Linked DNA regions of Homo sapiens: regions 2 and 3 are each linked to region 1. The links come from fine-mapping of genetic effects on gene expression. A gene starts in region 1. Each other region holds a variant in brackets. All regions are shown on one strand. Distances are from middle to middle. Region 1 holds the start of RPL36 (ribosomal protein L36). Region 2 overlaps SAFB (scaffold attachment factor B). Region 3 has its middle 15 kb from the start of TINCR.

Region 1 (7,109 bases):
ACGGTGACTAGAAGATGCAGTGTTTCTTAACAAATGAGAGTATTGAGTGTCCAGGCCTGTGCTGATAGCCAGGGTTCTTAAACTCGAAGGGAAGGATGGGCACTTCTTAGCAACAAGCAGTCCATTGCTACTTCAAGGAAGGGTATGGCTCTTGGGCACAAACCTTTCAATATTTCAAGAGAAGCTAGCAATCAGGAAATTGTAGATGAAATGTCCTGTTTTAGATGTTGGTGATTGACTAACCACCAAATTGGCCAGCATTCTGGCCCGCGGGCCTCCACTTTGCGCCCCTCAAGCAGTGGTAAATTTTTGGGAATGATGTTGAATGGGTCCCGAGGCTCAGAGTAGGGGGGGGTTTTCAGGCGGGGGCCTCCCTATGGCCAGCAGGTGCGGTGGAGGGGGAAGCGCTGCTGTAGAGGAGAGGCCCACGGGCAGCTCTGGCCCCCCCCAGGTGGTAGGGAACTGCCGGAAGCTGGGCGCCCCCAAGGTCTTCTACATCGCGGCGGACATGGCCTCCCCTGAGGCGCCCGAGAGCGTGGTGCAGTTTGCGCTGGACAAGCTGGGTGAGGGGCTGGGCCTGAAGCCTGGAGTCCGGGACCGTGGCCTAGGCCTTAGGGACAGGACCAGAATTGGGCTGTGGGTGTGGCCACAGTAACAGGTGTCTCAGGGCGGAGACAAATGGGGACTGGGGGCGTGGGCGGGGTGGAGTCTCATTGCGTCTGGGGGAAGAGCTCTGAACGGGGCCTCGTTGAATGGGAACCAAACCTTGCTAGATCCAGGGTGTAAGGCCAAGGCTGGGTGTCTTTGATCGTAGTGGGAGTTACCTGGGGCGGAGCTCGCTGGACCAGCGCTCTGGGTGGAGCTAAGCTCGGGGGCGGGGTTTGATCGTTTCCTTGGGGAGGGGCCTCCGGGGCTGACCGGCGTTTCTGGGCCAGGCGGGCTGGACTACCTCGTGCTGAACCACATCGGCGGCGCCCCGGCCGGCACGCGAGCCCGCAGCCCCCAGGCAACTCGCTGGCTCATGCAGGTGCTCCGCTCCTCCGCGGCCCCGGCCCGCCCCTCTATCTCAGGGACCGGTGGTCCGTTCCCTTCGCGGTCCGGGTTCTGCCTTCTCCAGGGAGGGCTCTCCACCCGTCCCGCCCCAGCCACGCCCCTCCTAGCCCAAGCCCCTGCTCCGGCCTTGACCCCGCCCTCGGACCCGCCTTCCGGGTTTCTGGCCCCGTCTCTGACCCGGCCCTGGCCCCGCCCTCTGGGTTTCTGGCCCCGCCCTGCCCCTGGGCTCCGCCTCTGCCGGTGACTCGCGAGTGCCGCCTGCAGGTAAACTTTGTGAGCTACGTGCAACTGACGTCGCGGGCGCTGCCCAGCCTGACGGACAGCAAGGGCTCCCTGGTGGTGGTGTCCTCGCTGCTCGGTGCGTGCACCCGGCCCCGGCTCTGCGGGACGGGGAGTGGGGAGCTCGATGCGGGTGAGCCTGGAGGGTCTGGGCAGGCTTCCCGGACGAGGGGGAGCCACTCAGCCGCTGCCGTCCGCGCCCCCAGGCCGCGTGCCCACGTCGTTCTCCACTCCCTACTCGGCGGCCAAGTTTGCGCTGGACGGCTTCTTCGGCTCCCTGCGGCGGGAGCTGGACGTGCAGGACGTGAACGTGGCCATCACCATGTGCGTCCTGGGCCTCCGAGATCGCGCCTCCGCCGCCGAGGCAGTCAGGTGAGGCCCGGACAAGCTGGGGGCTGGGCTGGGGGCCATGGCCCAGCCCCAGCCGCAGTCCCCACCGTGCCCTCCTGTCCCCAGGGGAGTCACGAGGGTCAAGGCGGCCCCGGGGCCCAAGGCAGCCCTGGCCGTGATCCGCGGCGGCGCCACGCGCGCGGCCGGCGTCTTCTACCCGTGGCGTTTCCGCCTGCTGTGCTTGCTCCGGCGCTGGCTACCGCGCCCGCGGGCCTGGTTTATCCGCCAGGAGCTCAACGTCACGGCCGCGGCAGCCTGAGCACCGGGGGGTGCCCCTCCAGTCCCAGACGGCAATGTTCCTCCCTCCAACTGTCCCTGGAGCCAGAACACTCACAGAGACACCCCTGAGAGGGTGGCCACAGCCCAAGATGAAGTCATCAAGACAGAAAAGCAAAACCGAGAAAAACGACGGGCACCTGGAACCAGTCACGGCTTGGGAGGTGCAGGTGCCCCGTGTTAGGCGCCTTTGTCGGGGACTTGCAAGGCCTCACCTGTTTGGCCATGATTGATGACGTGACTGCTTCCATTTTGCAGATGAGGAAACTAAGGCTCAGAGAGGCCACGCCACCCTTGAGCCACCCATGGACCCCTCTCCATCTCCTGCCTGCGCCTTTAAGTCCCTGATTTATTCTTTCCATTCATTCCATCTGGGAGGAACCCCCCCAACTCCTGCCAGCTTCCCCTAGCTGGGGTCTCTGGTACTCTTCACACCTGCAGGGGCGTCTACACTGTTCGTCTACCTGGTGGCAGGGTCTGAGCGGGAGGAGGAGGGAAAGAGTGTGTTCTGAGCTGGACCCAGCCTCTTGTTCGAGAATAAAAACTCTTCTTCTCTTGCATATCTGTTGTTCAAATTCCTTGGTAATTCCAATTTGCTAGCAGCCAGCGGGCAGCGGGAGGGGGTGTGTGTATCAGGGGCCTTGACTCTCAATCCCATTTCACAGGTGGGGAAATGGAGGCTGAGAGGGCCAGGAGCAGTGGCTCACGCCTATAATCCCAGCACTTTGAGAGGTCAAGGTGGGCAGATCACTTGAGGTCAGGAGTTTGAGACCAGCCTGGCCAACATGGTGAAACCCTGTCTTTATTTATTTATTTATTAGACGGAGTCTCACTCTATCGCCCAGGCTGGAGTGCAGTGGTGCGATCTAGGCTCACTGCAACCTCTGCCTCCGGGGTTCAAGCGATTCTTGTGCCTCAGCCTCCCAAATAGTTCAGATTACAGGTGTGGGTCACAACGCCTGACTTTTTGTATTTTTAGTAGAGACGGGGTTTTACCATGTCGGCCAGGCTGGTCTCGAACTCCTAGCCTTAGGTGATCCCCCTGTCTCGGCCTCTCAAAGTGCTGGGATTACAGGTGTCAGCCACTGCACCCGGCCACAAACAAATATTTTAATTAAAAAATTAGCCAGGCGTGGTGGCATGTGCCTGTGGTCCCAGCTAAGGAGGCTAAGGCAGGAGGATCACTTGAGCCCTGGAAGTCAAGGCTACAATAAGCTATGATTACAGCAGTGCACTCTAGCCTGGGCGACAGAGCAAGACCCTGTCTGGAAAAAACATGAAAGCGCTAACCCTAATTAGAGCAGCCCTAAATTGAGACTCTCTTCTTGTATATTAGTAGCATTAAAGGAGAAAAACTGGAAACTTGTGTGTTTCTGCCACCCGATTCAGTTATTTAGCGTCCCGTCCCTACACCACCTAAATTACATCAGATGTCCGCAAGGGGCACTATTACACGTTGCTGTATTCAGACCTAGTCTAGAGCTTGACCAATTGATAACAAAACCAATACCTTTTTTTTTAAATGGAGTTTCGCTCTGTCGCCCAGGCTGGAGTGCAGTGGTGCGATCTCGGCTCACTGCAACCTCTGCCTCTTGGGCTCAAGCAATTCTCCTGCCTCAGCCTCCTGCGTAGCTGGGATTACAGGAGCATGCCACCACGCCTGGCTATTTATTTATTTATTTATTTATTTATTTATTTATTGAGACGGAGTCTTGCTCTGTCGCCCAGGCTGGAGTGCAGTGGCACGATCTCGGCTCACTGCAAGCTCTGCCTCCTGGGTTCACGCCATTCTCCTGCCTCGGCCTCCCGAGTAGCTGGGACTACAGGTGCCCACCACCACGCCTGGCTAATTTTTTGTATTTTTAGTAGAGACGGGGTTTCACCGTATTAGGCTGGTCTCGAGCTCCTGACCTCGTGATCCACATGCCTCGACCTCCCAAAGTGCTGAGATTACAGGCGTGAGCCACCGCGCCCGGCCTAATGGGCGTTTTAACAGTTCATACAGTTTGGTATTATTATTCCCGCTCTACAAGTGAAGAAATTCTGAGAGGTGATGTCGTCGATGCAGGGTCGGCCCGAAATAGGCGGAGTTGGGATTCGAACTCATTTCACAGGCAGAGGGAGGAGAGCAGCCATAGCCACCTCCACTGGTTCCGACTCCAGCTCCCGGGCTCGCAGGAGTAAACGCGCATGCTCAGGGAGCTCGGTCGCGCATGCTCAGCGCAACGGCGGGGAAGACTCCAGCCGCCAGGGGGAGCGCGTGCCGTTCTTGCCTCTCTGGCCTGCGCCTCCTGAGCCGAGTAGATATCCCGGAGTTCCGCGCGGCGCCAGCCCTTCCGCCACGGCCGTCTCTGGAGAGCAGCAGGTAAGTGGTTTCCCGCACTGCCGGTATCCGCCGCCATCCGGACTCCCGGGTCCTCTGTGCAGGTTGGAGGATGGTTGGTTGTGGCGAGCGAGGCTGAAGGAGCCGGGACGCGGGGCTCTGGGCCTCGGGAACTGAGCCGGTACTCACCTCCGCCCCTTCTCCCCGTCGCTGTCCGCAGCCATGGCCCTACGCTACCCTATGGCCGTGGGCCTCAACAAGGGCCACAAAGTGACCAAGAACGTGAGCAAGCCCAGGCACAGCCGACGCCGCGGGGTGAGTGCGGGTGCCGCGCGGAGGTTGTCGGGGGTTTCTTGGAGGGCGGAGGGCATGGCTTGGGCAAAGGCTCTCGACCTGAAAGAACGCGCGTTCGGGCGCAGAACTAAGGGGGGCTTGAATGGAAGAGATGGGGTGGGGGAGTGGGACTTCCTGCCTGGTGCTCGAAGGCGGGCACCCATCTGGGTTTTTCCCAACCGTGCAATCCACGCTGGGGCAGAGGGAGCACCTTGAGAGCGGCGCGGGGCAGCGGGTTTGGGGTTCTGACGCAGGAGTAGGAGTTCGCTCATGGAGCTGGCCCGAGGTTGCGGTGTGTGAGGTTGAGGGATTTCAGGTGTGTCAGTGTATTGGGCGCCTTTATTAAGCGGGCAGCGGGTTTGGGGTTCTGACGCAGGAGTAAGGAGTTCGCTCATGGAGCTGGCCCGAGGTTGCGGTGTGTGAGGTTGAGGGATTTCAGGTGTGTCAGTGTATTGGGCGCCTTTATTCAGCAGGCAGCCCAGACTCCAGGTGCGTCCTGCCAGTGTTGCGGAGACTGGGACTTAGGGAGGATGGGAGCTGCTCCGGGCGCGGCGAAAAGCGCTAGGCGTTAATACCTTGGTTCTCACAGCTACCCACAGAGGGGAGGAAGTAGCCAGGGAAATCGCGGCAGCGCGAGAGAAGCTGCTTAACTAGAATGCAGGGATCCCCCTACCCTGACGGCCGCCCCTTTCCCCCCTAGCGTCTGACCAAACACACCAAGTTCGTGCGGGACATGATTCGGGAGGTGTGTGGCTTTGCCCCGTACGAGCGGCGCGCCATGGAGTTACTGAAGGTCTCCAAGGACAAACGGGCCCTCAAATTTATCAAGAAAAGGGTAGGTGGGCGCTGCCGGCCGAGGGGCGGGGTGGGATGGGAGTCAGGGCCGGGCTGACGGCGGCCTCGTCCCTGGCAGGTGGGGACGCACATCCGCGCCAAGAGGAAGCGGGAGGAGCTGAGCAACGTACTGGCCGCCATGAGGAAAGCTGCTGCCAAGAAAGACTGAGCCCCTCCCCTGCCCTCTCCCTGAAATAAAGAACAGCTTGACAGAAGCCCTGGCTCTCCTGCTGTCCGTGGGTGGGTGTGGGTGTGTCGGGGGCCCGCAGTCCCCTGTCTGGTGCCCGCTCTGAGCCACACCCTCTCCGGGTGCTGCCTGGTCGTGAATCAAAAGCCGTGGCCCGCCCACCCTTCCCGGGGCAGCAGGTGAGGAAGCCGCCGTACTGCAAATGACTTTAATCATTAAATAGCTTCTATGCCACACTCTGATTAAGCCGACTGAGGTCCCTGGGATCTGGGTCACTGGACCGAGCTGCTCGCTCGGTGGCTCCACTGCCAGGTCCGGGCGCGCTCCCCACAGCGCTCAGTTCTGGCCCAGACAGGGCCTGACATCCGCCGCCTGCAGTCCCGGGGTGGCCGTCACCGTTCCACGGCCAGCGCCTCTGCCTGCTCGTCCGGGAAGGCGATGTCGAAGATCTCCCGGTAGTGTTCCACGAAGTGCACCTCCAGGCCCTCGGTGATGAAGGCTGCCAGGTCGTAGAAGTCCTTCTTGTTCTCGGCTGGCAGGACGATGCACGTCACCCCTGCGCGCTTGGCCTGGGGGCAGAGTCAGGGTCAGCCCTGCCTGGGCCTGTGGGAGGGCAGCAGGTGTGCTAACCTCCAGGAACGAAAGGGCTTCCTGGGGACCGGCGATACACAGTGATGCCGGGTTCTAAGCAGTAAGTCCCAAAACCCACCAGGGTCCCCGTCTCCCACGGGGAAACAGGCTCAAGGCAAAACCACTGGCCTTGGCTCCAACAGCCTGAGAGCAGGAGCCAGGGCCTCCCCACCCCCTTATCTAGGAAGTCTGGCCGTGCGGTGGGAGCAGTCTCAGGGCTCTGGATGAGCCACACACCCACGGCCTCACATCCAGAGGTCAGGCAGTGTCTGGGGCCTGAACAGGGTTCCTGTGAGCATCTGCATCTCTGCCCCCAGGCCCTGCGTCACCCCCCTCACCTCCGGAGGCTACACATATCTGGAGTAGATGCCAGGCACAGCCCCACCACAGCCCCTTGAAAGGACAGCAGTTCCCACTGTCACCGCACACTGACTCCATGGACAGTGAGCCTCCCAATTTGCCTCCACCATTTTATCATCTAGGAAGTCTGTGCCTGGTGTCCAATTCAAGGTGGTCACAGCCACTTGACCATGCCTCCCTCGTGGTGGCATCTCCTGACTGACTGCACCAGGCTTCCTAGACACATGGCAAGTGTGGTCCAGTCTGGGGACAGGCAGGGATGGGAGGGAAGAGTGGGGACAGTGGCGCTCCAACCTGCTCAGCACCCTTGGAAGAGGCCAGCCCCTGGCCAGGGGCTCCAAACACCCCCGCCACCAGTAATCCTAAACGTCGTCCCCATCTCTAGCCTCTCCCTTGGCGCTGGGCTGCCTGGGAAGAGAAGCAGGAGCCACCCCCCCAATCCTA
Region 2 (7,342 bases), 37 kb before region 1:
CTTGGACTTTGGAAGCTAAATTTGGAAGAGTCATATCTAAACGACGACAGAATGAAGACTGTCAAGAATCAGCCAGAAGGTTTTGGGGGTTAAATCTCTGGGATGCTTTTCTCTTCCGTGTAGCGTAGAGGCTTACCTAGAGGCGGTCGCGGCGCAGGTAGTGTAACCAGTATAACTTTGTGTACCCGCGGGTTTTCCAATCTCTGTGTAGCTAGCAGTTCTCTTCGTGTTAGTGTGGCAGCCGTGCCAGTTCCACATTTGTGATTGCTTTATTTCCCTGGTAATTAAACCTTGTGCCATTCTATTCCTGTTAAATCCGTAGAAAATGAGAAAATACTCGACATTTTGGGGGAAACTTGTAAATCTGAGCCAGTAAAAGAAGAAAGTTCCGAGCTGGAGCAGCCATTTGCACAGGACACAAGTAGCGTGGGGCCAGACAGAAAGCTTGCGGAGGAAGAGGACCTATTTGACAGCGCCCATCCGGAAGAGGGTGATTTAGATTTGGCCAGCGAGTCAACAGCACACGCTCAGTCGAGCAAGGCAGACAGCCTGTTAGCGGTAGTGAAAAGGGAGCCCGCGGAGCAGCCAGGCGATGGCGAGAGGACGGACTGTGAGCCTGTAGGGCTAGAGCCGGCAGTTGAGCAGAGTAGTGCGGCCTCCGAGCTCGCGGAGGCCTCTAGCGAGGAGCTCGCAGAAGCACCCACGGAAGCCCCAAGCCCAGAAGCCAGAGATAGCAAAGAAGACGGGAGGAAGTTTGATTTTGACGCTTGTAATGAAGTCCCTCCGGCTCCTAAAGAGTCCTCAACCAGTGAGGGCGCTGATCAGAAAATGAGGTTTGTTTTTTCTCAGTTTTAGACCAGACGCTATCTCCTTTTCATTGGTCATGTAATGACACACATAAGCTGTTTTTTTCTGCAATTGGCCAGCCAGACTGACGAAATTGTAGTTTTGCTTCTAAAGAATGTTTCGTTTCTCTTTGTGTGTTTTTAATGGGTGATTCAATTCCTTTTCTTTTTCTCAACCTACCATGGTTGTGTTCTTAAATTCTTCCTAATTACCTTTAGCCCAGCAGAATTAATTAACTCCTGTGGGTCTGAAATCTTATGGTTAGGTCAGATTTTCAATACAAGTTTGTCGGGGTATCATTTTTTCAGAACTAAATTTCGGGTAGGTATGCAACCTCAGCACGAATTTTATGGTTTTGAGTTTGTTTCCTCCATGCTGCTTCCTTGTGGAGTGACATTGTCTTTTGTCTCTAGTTCTCCCGAAGATGACTCGGATACAAAAAGGCTTTCCAAAGAGGAAAAGGGTAGGTCACCTCGGCGACACCAGTCCCTTGGAGCATGTATGGCCTGGGCAGTGGCGGGTATTTGATTCTGGTTCATCGCGTGCTATGCTCCTTACCCAGGAGACTCCTGAGACGTTTGTGCAGTCTTTCTCCTTCTCTGCTGTTACCGCTACAGGTTCTGGGTTGTAGGAAGCATACCAGGTCCTAAGAGTTAACAGGCTGATTTGGTGCAGATCCTTGTGTTGGGAGCACATTCATCCTGTAACCCTTCATTAAATGCATTAACTGAGAAATAATTTTACCCTACCAAATTCCTTCTTAATCAGTGTTCTAAAGGAGTAAAAACATGGGATAGATACAGAGCTATACGTGGAAAGAGAAACAGTGCATTGTTGACACCAAGGTTGACTGTTCTGCTACATGGCCGTTGCACACTGCACTTCCTCCTGTAATTAAGCGATCGCTAACTTTTTTTGAGACAGAGTCTTGTTCTGTTGCCCAGGCTGGAGTGCAGTGGCGCGATCTCAGCTCACTGCAACCTCTGACTCCCGGGTTCTAGAGATTCTCCTGCCTCAGCCTCCTGAGTAGCTGGGATTATAAGCGCCCGCCACCACACCCAGCTGATTTTTTGTATTTTTAGTAGACATGGGGTTTCACCATGTTGGCCAGGCTGGTCTCGAACTCTTGACCTCGTGATTCGCCCACCTCAGCCTCCCAAAGTGCTGGGATTACAGGCGTGAGCCACCACACCCGGCCCGCAATTGCTAACTTTCTTAGGAAACCTCACATTGTCCCAATAGCCCCACTCAGTATTGTGACGGGCCCTGTGGTAGTGCTGCTGGGCCTGGTGTTGCACTGGAGGCTCTTGGTGAGGATAGTGGTCAGGCCCACAGCCCCATTTGGCTTTTAGTGCTGCCACTGCCTCAGGAAAAATGGGAACCATGTCTCTTTTGGAAAGGTTGTCTCTAAGACTCAAGATCTTGTGGGTATTTGGGTTTTTACTAGAATTTTCTTTTGAAATAGGTCGCAGCAGTTGTGGTAGAAATTTCTGGGTTAGTGGACTCTCTTCTACAACCAGAGCTACAGATTTGAAGAATCTTTTCAGCAAATATGGGAAGGTAAGTGCCAGAGCTTTTCTGGAGAAGATACTTTGAAACCAGCGTTGTGTGGCCTTTACATGGAGGTCCTCTCCCCTCAGTGAGTTCTTTGAGAGATACCAAGGAGCTTACACTTGCTAATGGCTGGGGAGGGTCTGCCCGTCCACAGGTAGAGGTGAGAGTGGTGTGGAAGCTTCCAGAGCCCACATCACCACTGTATTTCCCTCCCTTCTCTGCGAGCTTGCCCCCTTCCCTGTGATGGCTCGTGGATCCATTTCTGTGTCCTCAGGACGTCGCACTCAGGCTGGGCTGCCAGGGTTGGCTGGTGGGGTGCTGGTCAGCATGTCTGGGAGACAGCAGTGTTCTTAGAACAGTGTTCGTGATGCTGGAACTCAGAACTCAGAACAGGGACCCTGGAGTCTGATGATAGGGGTCCTCACCACGGGTGTCTTGGGTCCATTGACTGAACCTCACCTCAGCAGCTGGGGGCTCTCAAAGTTGCTGCCTCAGTTCACCACTGGGGGCAGTTCTAGTGGCCTCTTGTCTGCAGCACCTGCCTTTCCTGAGCCCGTGAAGGTGGGGCTGGTGGCACCAGCCCCCTACCTGCAGTGCCCAGCGCAGCCGCCTGGCCCTCCTCCCTGTGCTTTCTCACTCCCTTCCTCCCTGGTGTTTCCCAGACTTGCCTCCCAAACAGCCTCCTGCATTCAGGGCTCCTCGTCTCTCTCAGAGTCGGTTTCGGGGACTACCAAAGGAAGGAGTCCAATCCTTTGTGTTACACAGTGAGGGTTCAACACATTGCAATATAGAAAACCAAGTGTTTTCCCTGATACTGACTTCGAAGAACTTAAAAGAGGATAAAACAGGCTGGGTGTGGTGGCTCACGCCTGTAATTCCAGCACTTTGGGAGGCCGAGGTGGGTGGATCACGAGGTCAGGAGTTTGAGACCAGCTTGGCCAGTATGGTGAAGCCTGTCTCTGCTAAAAGTACAGAAATTAGCCGGGCGTGGTGGCGCATGCCTGTAATCCCAGGTACTTGGGACGCTAAGGCAGGATAACAACTTGAACCCAGGAGGTGGAGGTTGCAGTGACCCGAGACCGTGCCACTGCACTCCAGCCTGGGACAGAGCAAGACTCCATCTTAAAAAAAGAAAAAAAAAAAGGATAAAACTAATTATGTCATTATTACGGACATAACTAAGGGCTTCTTGAGCCTCAGTGATACAAGGTGTGTGGCTGGCAACACCTGCGCCAAGTCTCCCCTACTAGACCCCCTTTCCTGACTCCATGGCGTCCCCCAGCGGGTGGGTGTGCTCAGTGGGGAAGTGTTGCCCTGGAGACTGTAGTGTCTTGAGCGCAGCAGGCCTGATGTGGGTTAATTAGAGGACCGGGCCTCTCTGAGAATGTCCTCTGGGACTAGGATTCCATGTGGCATGATGAGCATGATTACCAGCCTCGGCCACTGGCTGCTGCAGGGCTTTTCCTGAGCCATGGTGTCTTCTGCCGTCAAAGG[G/T]CGACCCTAACTGCATCCTGCTGGAGTCGAGAAAACCAGGTAGACTGGAAAGGATGTGTCTACAGTAACTGAAACACATCACTGCGTTTTGTTACAGTCAATGATAGGGCAGATCTGAGTTCCAGAGCACGGCTCACAGACCTTTCCTTGCATCAGTCTGTGCCGAAGTCTTTTTTTTTTCTTTTTTCTTTTTTTGCCCACATTACATCACTTCATAATTTACCACCTACGTAGCATGACTGTATATTTGGAATCATTTCTTCACAAGTTTTAGACCATATTAAAGGAACACTGGCAGAACCCTGTTTGATTTCCCTTTCGTCTGTTCCCCTACATTGCCCTCCTGGCCCCCTTGAGGAACTAGATGAGCGATTAGAACTGGCCAGAGGTCCTTGGAGGAACAACAGCGAAACAGAAGCATTAGTAGCATTGTCCTCCCCAGTCTAACACTTGTCGGACCCCTGATGAGCAGACTTCCCTGTGGGGTGTTCATATCCCCATGCCCCGCTCAGTGGGCTTCATGTCTGAGTCATATTTGCCTGCTTTCCTTTGAGGTGGTGGGCGCCAAGGTTGTGACAAATGCCCGGAGTCCTGGAGCTCGCTGTTACGGTTTTGTCACGATGTCCACAGCAGAAGAGGCCACAAAATGCATTAACCACCTGCACAAGACGGAGCTCCACGGAAAGATGATCTCCGTGGAGAAAGTGAGTGGCCGTTTTCTTCCCAGGATATAGCCCACATTAGGAAATGGGGGTAATACTTGATTCTCTTTTTCAGGCCAAAAATGAACCTGTGGGAAAGAAAACCTCTGACAAAAGAGACAGTGACGGGAAAAAGGAGAAGTCGAGCAACAGTGACAGGTACCCCTCCTTCCTGGCTAAATTAAAGGGGCAGGGTGTTTTTTGTTGTTGTTGTTTTGTTTTTGAGATGGAGTCGCGCTCTGTCGCCCAGACTGGAGTGCAGTGGTGTGATCTCGGCTCACCTCAACTCCACCTCCTGGGTTCAAGCAATTCTCCTGCCTCAGCCTCCTGAGTATCTGGGACTAAGGTGTGCACCACCACACCCGGCTAATTTTTGTATTTTCAGTAGAGATGGGGTTTCACCATATTGGCCAGGCTGGTCTTGAACTCCTGACCTTGTGATCCGCCTGCCTCGGCCTCCCAAAGTGCTCGGATTACAGGCGTGAGCCACCATGCCTGGCCGGGGCAGGGTGTTTTAAACAGAATCTCACTCTGTTGCCCAGGCTGGTGTGCAGTGGCAAGATCTCTTTTCATTGAACCTCCACCTCCCTGGCTCAACCAATTCTCATGCCTCAGCCTCCCGATTTGCTTGGATTATAGCCATGCCCATTTGTGGTTTTAGTAGAGATGGGGTTTCACCATGTTGGCCAGGCTGGTCTCGAACTCCCGGTCTCATGTGATCCGCCCGCCTCATCCCCCCAAAGTGCTGGGAATACAGGCATGAGCCACCACGCCCAGCCAACATGTCTGTTTTTTATAGATCTACAAACCTTAAGAGGGATGATAAATGTGACAGAAAAGATGATGCTAAGAAGGGTGACGACGGAAGTGGAGAAAAGAGTAAGGACCAAGATGATCAGAAACCTGGCCCCTCAGAGCGATCTCGAGCCACAAAGTCAGGTGGGCAGCTCATGAGCCCAGGAGATTCTGTCTTGTTTCTGTGCCTAGTGGAGTTTGTTAGTTTGCTGTGATTAGCTGGCAACGGAAACTGGATTCATGTTGCAGAGGGTTTTTCTCATCTGGGTATTCTTGGTTTTCCACTTACACTTTCCCCGTCTTTTCTGTAGGAAGTCGAGGGACCGAACGGACTGTAGTAATGGATAAATCCAAAGGGGTGCCTGTGATTAGTGTAAAAACGTCCGGGTCCAAAGAGAGAGTGAGTATTAATTTTCTAACTAGGGTATTTTGCTCTTCTTTTCAGTTTGTATTTCTGTGTGCGTCTTAGGGAATTACTAAGCTTCATTTGAAAAAAGCTTTTGTCGGCCGTTTCGAAAATGTAGAAATCTCAAACTATTTTTTTTGAGACAGGTTCTCACTCTGTTGCCCAGACTAGAGTGCAGTGGTGCGATCTTGGCTCACTCCAACCTCCGCCTCCCAGGCTCAAGCGATTCTCCTGCCTCAGCCTCCCGAGTAGCTGGGATTACAGGCGCACACCATTATCTTTTTAGTAGAAACAAGGTTTCACCATGTTGGCCAGGCTGGCCTCGAACTCCTCACCTCAGGTGATCCGCCCGCCTCGGCCTCCCAAAAGTGCTGGGATTACAGGCATGAGCCACTGCGCCCAGCCTCAAATTATTTTAAGAAATGCAGAAAGCTTTCCTTTATCCTTACTTTTGCTCTGATAACTGTTAACTTATTTTCTAAAGCTAACTTTAAAATTTACATATGGGACTGTTGGCTTTTCCCTGAGTCGGTGTGTGGCAGTCCACGTTCCCTGTCTACCCTGAAAGTGTCAGCACCTCCCCGTGATGCATTCCTACACCCAGCAGTGTGGAGCATGCCATGGTGACCTGGCCCATCTCGCCAGCCTCCCTCTAGCCTGCTCTCCACCTTGACCCCTTCCTGTACTCTTATCTTCTTGCTGGGCTGCAGTGTGAGCTGAGCATGGTGGCTCATGCCTGTAATCCCAGCAGTTTGGTATGCTGAGCTGGGAGGATACTTGAGCCCAGGAGATGGATACCACCTTGGGCAACATAGTAAGACCCCATCTTCACAAGAAATTTAAAAATTAGGCAGGCTCGGTGGTATGCATCTGTGGTCCCAGCTACTCAAAAGGCTGAGGTGGGAGAATGCCACTTAAACCTGGGAGGTCAAGACTGTAGTGAGCCACGTTCATTGCACTGCACTCTAGCCTGGGAGAGAGAGTGAGACCCCATCTCAAAAAAAAAAAAAAAAAAAAACACACACCTATTATTTGCATGGTCTGTGCACACCGAGCCACCCTTACTGGTTAACTGTCAACTGGGGACACTCTGAGAGCCAACTTCCCAGTTGCCAGCCAAGGACCAATCTTGGCAGCAGCCCCTCCTTAAGGAAGGAGAGGGACCTTGGACCCGCCTGGTCAACCCTCAGCTGCACGGAGGAGGAACCATTTCACTTGGTGAATGGAGCGGATTGCTTAGGAGCTTTCAGTCTCTGTGTGCCAGTATTATAATATGTCATAGCCTTTTACCCTTGTTCTATAAAACACCTTTGGAAAACGGAAAAAGGAAAGTGTGGGTTCTAGGGATAAAATGAGAAGGTCTCTTAACAATGTCATTGGCACAAATAAGGTACTTGTCAAGTGTACCGGAAGTGCTTCATTTGGGAACTCATTGTGTGTTTAATTATTGAAGGAAAAAGGAAAATTAAGAAATTTATTTTTGAAGCAAAAGACATAAAAAATTGGTGTTTTGATCTTATATGAAGTTTTCGGGGGCAATACTCAT
Region 3 (7,342 bases), 140 kb before region 1:
AGAGCAACCCCCTTTGACTGTAATTTTCCATTACCTTCCCAAATCCTATAAAACGGCCCCACCCGTATCTCCCTTCGCTGACTCTCTTTTCGGACTCAGCCGGCCTGCACCCAGGTGAAATAAACAGCCATGCTTCTCACACAAAGCCTGTTTGGTGGTCTCTTCACACAGACGCGCATGAAATTTGGTGCCGTGACTCGGATCGGGGGACCTCCCTTGGGAGGTCAATCCCCTGTCCTCCTGCTCTTTGCTCCGTGAGAAAGATCCACCTACCACCTCAGGTCCTCAGTCCAACCAGCCCAGGAAACATCCCACCAATTTCAAATCCGGTAAGCGGCCTCTTTTTACTCTCTTCTCCAACCTCCCTCACTATCCCTCAACCTCTTTCTCCTTTCAATCTTGGCGCCACATTTCAATCTCTCCCTTCTCTTAATTTCAATTCCTTTCATTTTCTGGTAGAGACAAAAGAGACATGTTTTATCCGTGAACCCAAAACTCCGGCGCCGGTCACGGACTGGGAAGGCAGCCTTCCCTTGGTGTTTAATCATTGCAGGGACGCCTCTCTGATTATACACTCACGTTTCAAGGGTGTCAGACCACGCAGGGACGCCCGCCTTGGTCCTTCACCCTTAGTGGCAAGTCCCGCTTTCCTGGGGCAGGGGCAAGTACCCCTCAACCCCTTCTCCTTCACCCTCAGTGGCAAGTCCCGCTTTCCTAGGGGGCAAGAAACCCCCAATCGCTTATTTCCGCACCCCAACCTCTTATATCTCTGCACCCCAATCCCTTATTTCCACACCCTGACCTCTTTGTGCCCCAATCCCTTACTTCCGTGCCCCAACCCCTTCTCTGCTTTTCTGGAGGGCGAGAACCCCCCACCCCTTCTCCGTGTCTCTACTCTTTTTTCTGGGCTTGCCTCCTTCACTATGGGTAAGCTTCCACCTTCCATTCCTCCTCCTTCTCCTTTAGCCTGTGTTCTCAAAAACTTAAAACCTCTTCAACTCACACCTGACCTAAAACCTAAATGCCTTATTTTCTTCTGCAATGCCGCTTGACTCCAATACAAGCTCGACAGTAGTTCCAAATAGCCGGAAAACGGCACTTTCAATTTTTCCATCCTACAAGATCTAAATAATTCTTGTCGTAAAATGGGCAAATGGTCTGAGGTGCCTGAAGTCCATCAGTCCCTTCCTACTCTCTGTGCCCAGTGCAACTCGTCCCAAATCTTCCTTCTTTCCCTCCCACCTGTCCCCTCAGTCCCAACCCCAAGCGTCGCTGAGTCTTTCTCATCTTCCTTTTCTACAGACCCATCTGACCTCTCCCCTCCTCGCCAGCCCAAGCTAAGTCCCAATTCTTCCTCAGCCTCTGCTCCTGCATCCTGTCATTTTTTTATCGCCTCCCCTCCTCACACCTGGTCCGGCTTACAGTTTCGTTCCGTGACTAGCCCTCCCCCTCCTGCCCAGCAATTTACTCTTAAAAAGGTGGCTGGAGCCAAAGGCATAGTCGAGGTTAATGCTCCTTTTTCTTTATCCCAAATCAGAAGCGTTTAGGCTCTTTTTCATCAAATATAAAAACCCAGCCCAGTTCATGACTTGTTTGGCAGTAACCCTGAGACACTTTACAGCCCTAGACCCTAAAAAGTCAAAAGGCCGTCTTATTCTCAAAATATATTTTATTACCCAATCTGCTCCCGACATTAAATAAAACTCCAAAAATTAAATTCCGGCCCTCAAACCCCACAACAGGACTTAATGAACCTCGCCTTCAAGGTGTACAATAATAGAAAAAAGTTGCAATTCCTTGCCTCCACTGTGAGACAAACCCCAGCCACATCTCCAGCACACAAGAACTTCCAAATGCCTGAACCGCAGCGGCCAGGCGTTCCTCCAGAACCTCCTCCCCCAGGAGCTTGCTACACGTGCCGGAAATCTGGCCACTGGGCCAAGGAATGCCCGCTGCCCGGGATTCCTCCTAAGCCGCGTCCCATCTGTGTGGGACCCCACTGAAAATCGGACTGTTCAACTCACCTGGCAGCCACTCCCAGAGCCCCTGGAACTCTGGCCCAAGGCTCTCTGACTGACTCCTTCCCAGATCTTCTCGGCTTAGCGGCTGAAGACTGACGCTGCCCGATCGCCTCGGAAGCCCCGTAGACCATCACGGACGCCGAGCTTCGGGTAACTCTCACAGTGGAAGGTAAGTCCGTCCCCTTCTTAATCAATACGGAGGCTACCCACTCCACATTATCTTCTTTTCAAGGGCCTGTTTCCCTTGCCTCCATAACTGTTGTGGGTATTGACGGCCAGGCTTCAAAACCCCTGAAAACTCCCCCACTCTGGTGCCAACTTAGACAACACTCTTTTATGCACTCTTTTTTAGTTATCCCCACCTGCCCAGTTCCCTTATTAGGCCGAGATACTTTAACCAAATTATCTGCTTCCCTGACTATTCCTGGACTACAGCCGCATCTCATTGCCGCCCTTCTCCCCAGCCCAAAGCTTCCTTCACGTCTTCCTCTCGTATCCCCCCACCTTAAGCCACAAGTATGGGACATCTCTACTCCTTCCCTGGCAACTGATCACATGCCCATTACCATCCCATTAAAACCTAATCACCCTTACCCCGCTCAACGCCAATATCCCATCCCACAGCATGCTTTAAAAGGATTAAAGCCTGTTATCACTCGCCTGCTATAGCATGGGCTTCTAAAACCTATAAACTCTCCTTACAATTCCCCCATTTTACCTGTCCGAAAACCGGATAAGTCTTACAGATTAGTTCAGGATCTGCGTCTTATCAACCAAATTGTTTTGCCATCCACCCTGTGGTGCCCAACCCGTACCCTCTTTTGTCCTCAATCCGTTCCTCCACAACTCACTATTCTGTTCTCCATCTTAAAGATGCTTTTTTCACTGTTCCCCTGCACCCCTCGTCCCAGCCTCTCTTTGCTTTCACTTAGACTGACCCTGACACCCATTAGGCTCAGCAAATTACCAAGGCTGTACTGCTGCAAAGCTTCACAGACAGCCCCCATTACTTCAATCAAGCACAAATTTCTTCCTCATCTGTTACCTATCTCGGCATAATTCTCAAAAACACACGTGCTTTCCCTGCCAATCGTGTCCGACTGACCTCTCAAACCCCAGCACCTACAAAACAACAACTCCTTTCCTTCCTAGGCATGGTTAGCGTGGTCGGAATTCTTACACAAGAGCCAGGACCACACCCTGTAGCCTTTCTGTCCAAACAACTTGACCTTACTGTTTTAACCTAGCCCTCATGTCTGCGTGCAGCGGCTGCTGCTGCTTTAATACTTTTAGAGGCCCTCAAAATCACAAACTTTATCAGTCCTCCAGGCCCAAGTTGACTCTTTAGCTGCAGTTGTCCTCCAAAACCACCGAGGCCTTGACTGACTTACTGCTGAAAAAGGAGGACTCTGCATATTCTTAAATGAGGAGTGTTGTTTTTACCTAAATCAATCTGGCCTGGTGTATGACAACATAAAAAAACTCAAGGATAGAGCCCAAAAACTTGCCAACCAAGAAAGTAATTACGCTGAACCCCCTTGGGCACTCTCTAATTGGATGTCCTGGGCCCTCCCAATTCTTAGTCCTTTAATACCCATTTTTCTCCTCCTTTTCTTCAGACCTTCTATCTTCCGTTTAGCTTCTCAGTTCATTGAAAACCGTATCCAGGCCATCACCAATCATTCTATACGACAAATGTTTCTTCTAACATCCCCACAATATCACCCCTTACCACAAGACCTCCCTTCAGCTTAATCTCTCCCACTCTAGGTTCCCACGCCGCCCCTAATCCCGCTCGAAGCAGCCCTGAGAAACATCGCCCGTTCTCTCTCCATACCACCCCCCAAAAATTTTCGCCGCTGCAACACTTCAACACTATTTTGTTTTATTTGTCTTATTAATATAAGAAGGCAGGAA[T/A]GTCAGGCCTCTGAGCCCAGGCCAGGTCATCGCATCCCCTGTGACTTGCACGTATACATCCAGATGGCCTGAAGTAACTGCAGATCCACAAAAGAAGTAAAAACAGCCTTAACTGGTGATATTCCACCATTGTGATTTGTTCCTGCCCCACCCTAACTGATCAATGTACTTTGTAGTCTCCCCCACCCTTAAGAAGGTTCTTTGTAATTCTCCCCACTCTTGAGAATGTACTTTGTGAGATCCACCCCTGCCCACCAGAGAACAACCCCCTTTGACTGTAATTTTCCATTACCTTCCCAAATCCTATAAAACGGCCCCACCCCTATCTCCCTTCGCTGACTCTCTTTTCGGACTCAGCCGGCCTGCACCCAGGTGAAATAAACAGCCATGCTGCTCACACAAAGCCTGTTTGGTGGTCTCTTCACATGGACACGCATGAAACCTACTGTGTACTTTGCTTTCTTTGCTCTTGGTGATTCCCCAAAAAACTTATCTCAACATATAAGGATTTTTCTTTTCTTTTTTTTTTTTTGTTTGAGACGGAGTCTCGCTCTGTCGCCCAGGCTGGAGTACAGCGGCGCGATCTCGGCTCACTGCAAGCTCCGCCTCCCGGGTTCACGCCATTCTCCTGCCTCAGCCTCCGGAGTAGCTGGGACTACAGGCGCCCGCTGCCACGCCCGGCTAATTTTTTTGTATTTTTAGTAGAGATGGGTTTCACCGTGTTAGCCATAATGGTCTCAATCTCCTGACCTCATGATCCGCCTGCCTTGGCCTCCCAAAGTGCTGGGATTACAGGCGTGAGCCACCGCGCCCGGCTGTTTTTTTTTTTTTTTACTTGCCTTTTTCCAAATGAGAAAACCAAGGCTCAGAGAGGTCAGTGGTGCAATCTCGGCTCACAGCAACTTCCGCCTCCCGGGTTCAAGGGATTCTAGTGCCTCAGCCTCCCAAGTACCTGGGATCACAGGCATCCGCCATCACACCCAGCTAATTTTTGTATTTTTAGTAGAGACAGGGTTTCGCCATGTTGTCCAGGCTGGTCTCGAGCTCATGACCTCAGGTGATCCGCCCACCTTGGCATCCCAAACTGCTGGGGTAGGATTTTCTTTTTTACTTCCCTTTTTCCAAATGAGAAAACCAAGGCTCAGAGAGGAAGAGCGTGTTGCCCCAAGTGGCCCAGCAGAGCCACAGCCTTGCCCCCAGCAGCTCTGGCTCTAATGCATTCCAGACTCCTCCCATCAGCCAACTGCCTCCCATCCTCTAATAAACTTCTGAGAAGCGCTGGGCAGATGCAGTGGCGCCCACGCTCTTTATCTGCCCAGATCAGGCCGGCTCAGCAGAGCAGTCGATAATTAATTCTGAATTCTCCCCATTTATCACGGCGGCAGGAGCCAGAGTGCCTGGAATCCCAATCCCAAACCTCCGTGCCCCTTGGTCACCTGGACCAAGGCCCAGTGGTGGCAGGAACTATGGTGGAGAGGGGGCCTCATTGAGCCTGGGAAGGGAGCAAAGGTGTTCCTGGCTCCCCACCGCTCCCTGGCGCTGGGTTATTAAACGCTGTGTACTGCAGCAGTGACCAAACCAGACCTCTTCCCCGTCTTCATGGTGCCCACAGGCTAGTGGGGAAAACATACATTGAATGAATAATAATATAAATAATTAATGCTACAAAGGAAAAGAACAAGATGTTGTGAGAATACAAAACAACAGGAACATAACTTGTTTTGGGGGCCTCCCCAAGGAAGTGACATTGAACCTGCAAATCACAGGGTGAAAGGTGAAAGGTTGGGAGAGGGTATTTCATATACAGAAATAGCCCATGCAGGCTGGGTGCGGTGGCTCACAGCACTTTGGGAGGCCAAGGCGGGCGGATCACCTGAGGTCAGGAGTTGAAGACCAGCCTGGCCAACATGGTGAAACCCCGTCTCTACTAAAAATACAAAAATTAGCAGGGCATGGCGATGTGTGCCTGTAGTCCCAGCTACTCAGGAGGCTGAGACAGGATTCTCACCTCCTGGTTCGCTTGAACCCAGGAGGTGGAGGTTGCAGTGAGCTAAGATAGCGCCATTGCACTCCAGCCTGGGCAACAGAGCTAGACTCTGTCTCAAAAAAAGAAAAAAAAGAAAGAAAAGAAAAGAAATAGCCTGTGAAAAAAACCTTGTGGCTGGAGCCCAGCAAGGGGTTTAGTAGGTCTGAAGCTTAAAGCACAAGTGTGAGGTCAGTGCCAAGTCAGGGGACCTCAGGGCCAGGCCTGGAGCCCTCATAGTGAGGCCAGCAGCCTTCAGTGGATAGCCAGGGGCCACCAAGGAAAGAGATGGATAAGTTTCCGTGATGCTCCAAGGGGTGGTAGTGAGGCTGCTTCTGCCCCAGGTGCATCACCCTGCAAGGTCAGTGGTCGGCTCTGTGTTGTTTTTTTTTTTTTTTTTTGGTTTGTTTGTTTTTGAGACGGAGTCTCGCTCTGTTGCCAGGCTGGAGTGCGGTGGCGTGATCTTGGCTCACTGCAACCTCCGCCTCTCGGGTTCAAGCAATTCTGCCTCAGCCTCCCAAGTAGCTAGGACTACAGGCGCCTGCCACCACGCCTGGCTAATTTTTATATTTTTAGTAGAGACAGGGTTTAACCATGTCGGCCAGAATAGTCTCGATCTCTTGACTTCGTGATCTGCCCGCCTCAGCCTCCCAAAGTGCTGGGATTACAGGAGTGAGCCACTGCGCCTGGCCGGGTTTTTTTTTCTTTCTTATGACTGTTTTCCTTTTTGAGGGTTCTTTCAAATCCATTTGGGCACGGGGGTTAGTCAGGATTTGTCTGCCAGCAAACACCGAATGCCTGGCTATCCCAAACACTTCCCTTCTTGGGCAGGCAGGGAAACTGAGGCCCAGCGAGGGACAAAGAACACCCAAGGTCATTCAGAGGAAGGTTGTGTGTGGGAGAGGTTTCTGGGGAGTCTCAGGGGCCATGCGCTTGCCCTGCAGCTTCTGTGGCTTTTGTTGGGCCGTGAACTCCGTGGGGAGCTTGACTGGGTATCCTAGTCACCACGCTGTCCTCAGAGCCCTGCAAACTGGAGGTGCTTAATCAGTGATTGTGGAATGCATGATCCCAGCAGCTTCTGAAGACACCCCAGAGGTCATGCTTACGATATTGGAAGGAAAGGGGGTCTTTTTTTCTTTTTCTTTTTTTTTGAGATGGAGTCTTGCTCTGTTACTCAGGCTGGAGTGCAGTGGCACAATCTCGGCTCACTGCAAGCTCCGCCTCCCGGGTTCACGCCATTCTCCTGCCTTAGCCTCCCAAGTAGCTGGGACTACAGGTGTGCACCACCACCACGCCTGGCTATTTTTTTGTATTTTTAGTAGAGACAGGGTTTTGCCATGTTGCCCATGTCCAGGCTGGTCTCGAACTCCTAGCCTCCAGC

The links. PIP is the estimated chance that this variant, and not a neighbour inherited with it, causes the effect.
Region 2: its variant is the best candidate, but not a certain one, in a credible set for the expression of RPL36 in whole blood (INTERVAL, PIP 0.51).
Region 3: its variant is the best candidate, but not a certain one, in a credible set for the expression of RPL36 in fibroblasts (GTEx, PIP 0.71).

What each region holds. Positions count from the first base shown.
Region 1 is chr19:5,685,965-5,693,073 of GRCh38, forward strand. RPL36 (ribosomal protein L36) reads left to right here and starts at 4,331. Exons shown (of 4, transcript NM_033643.3): 1 at 4,331-4,363; 2 at 4,542-4,636; 3 at 5,355-5,489; 4 at 5,568-5,911. The coding sequence starts at 4,544. The coding sequence ends at 5,657. It overlaps HSD11B1L (hydroxysteroid 11-beta dehydrogenase 1 like), which reads left to right. Exons shown (of 8, transcript NM_198706.3): 4 at 452-563; 5 at 936-1,027; 6 at 1,318-1,411; 7 at 1,539-1,704; 8 at 1,789-2,558. The coding sequence ends at 1,981. LONP1 (lon peptidase 1, mitochondrial) reads right to left here. Exons shown (of 18, transcript NM_004793.4): 18 at 5,870-6,244. The coding sequence ends at 6,068. RefSeq lists silencers at 795-1,054, 1,125-1,274, 1,515-1,574, 5,393-5,442 and enhancers at 1,752-2,251, 4,003-4,052, 4,108-4,633, 4,634-5,159, 5,160-5,685 and 2 more.
Region 2 is chr19:5,648,667-5,656,008 of GRCh38, forward strand. It overlaps SAFB (scaffold attachment factor B), which reads left to right. Exons shown (of 21, transcript NM_001201338.2): 7 at 323-833; 8 at 1,260-1,309; 9 at 2,312-2,406; 10 at 4,449-4,598; 11 at 4,672-4,754; 12 at 5,395-5,534; 13 at 5,702-5,790. Among named protein-coding and RNA genes, the nearest start is that of MICOS13, 28 kb to the right of the region's middle. RefSeq lists an enhancer at 1-1,007. The variant G/T (reference allele first, on the strand shown) is at 3,895.
Region 3 is chr19:5,548,834-5,556,175 of GRCh38, forward strand. No RefSeq gene overlaps it. Among named protein-coding and RNA genes, the nearest start is that of TINCR, 15 kb to the right of the region's middle. The variant T/A (reference allele first, on the strand shown) is at 3,939.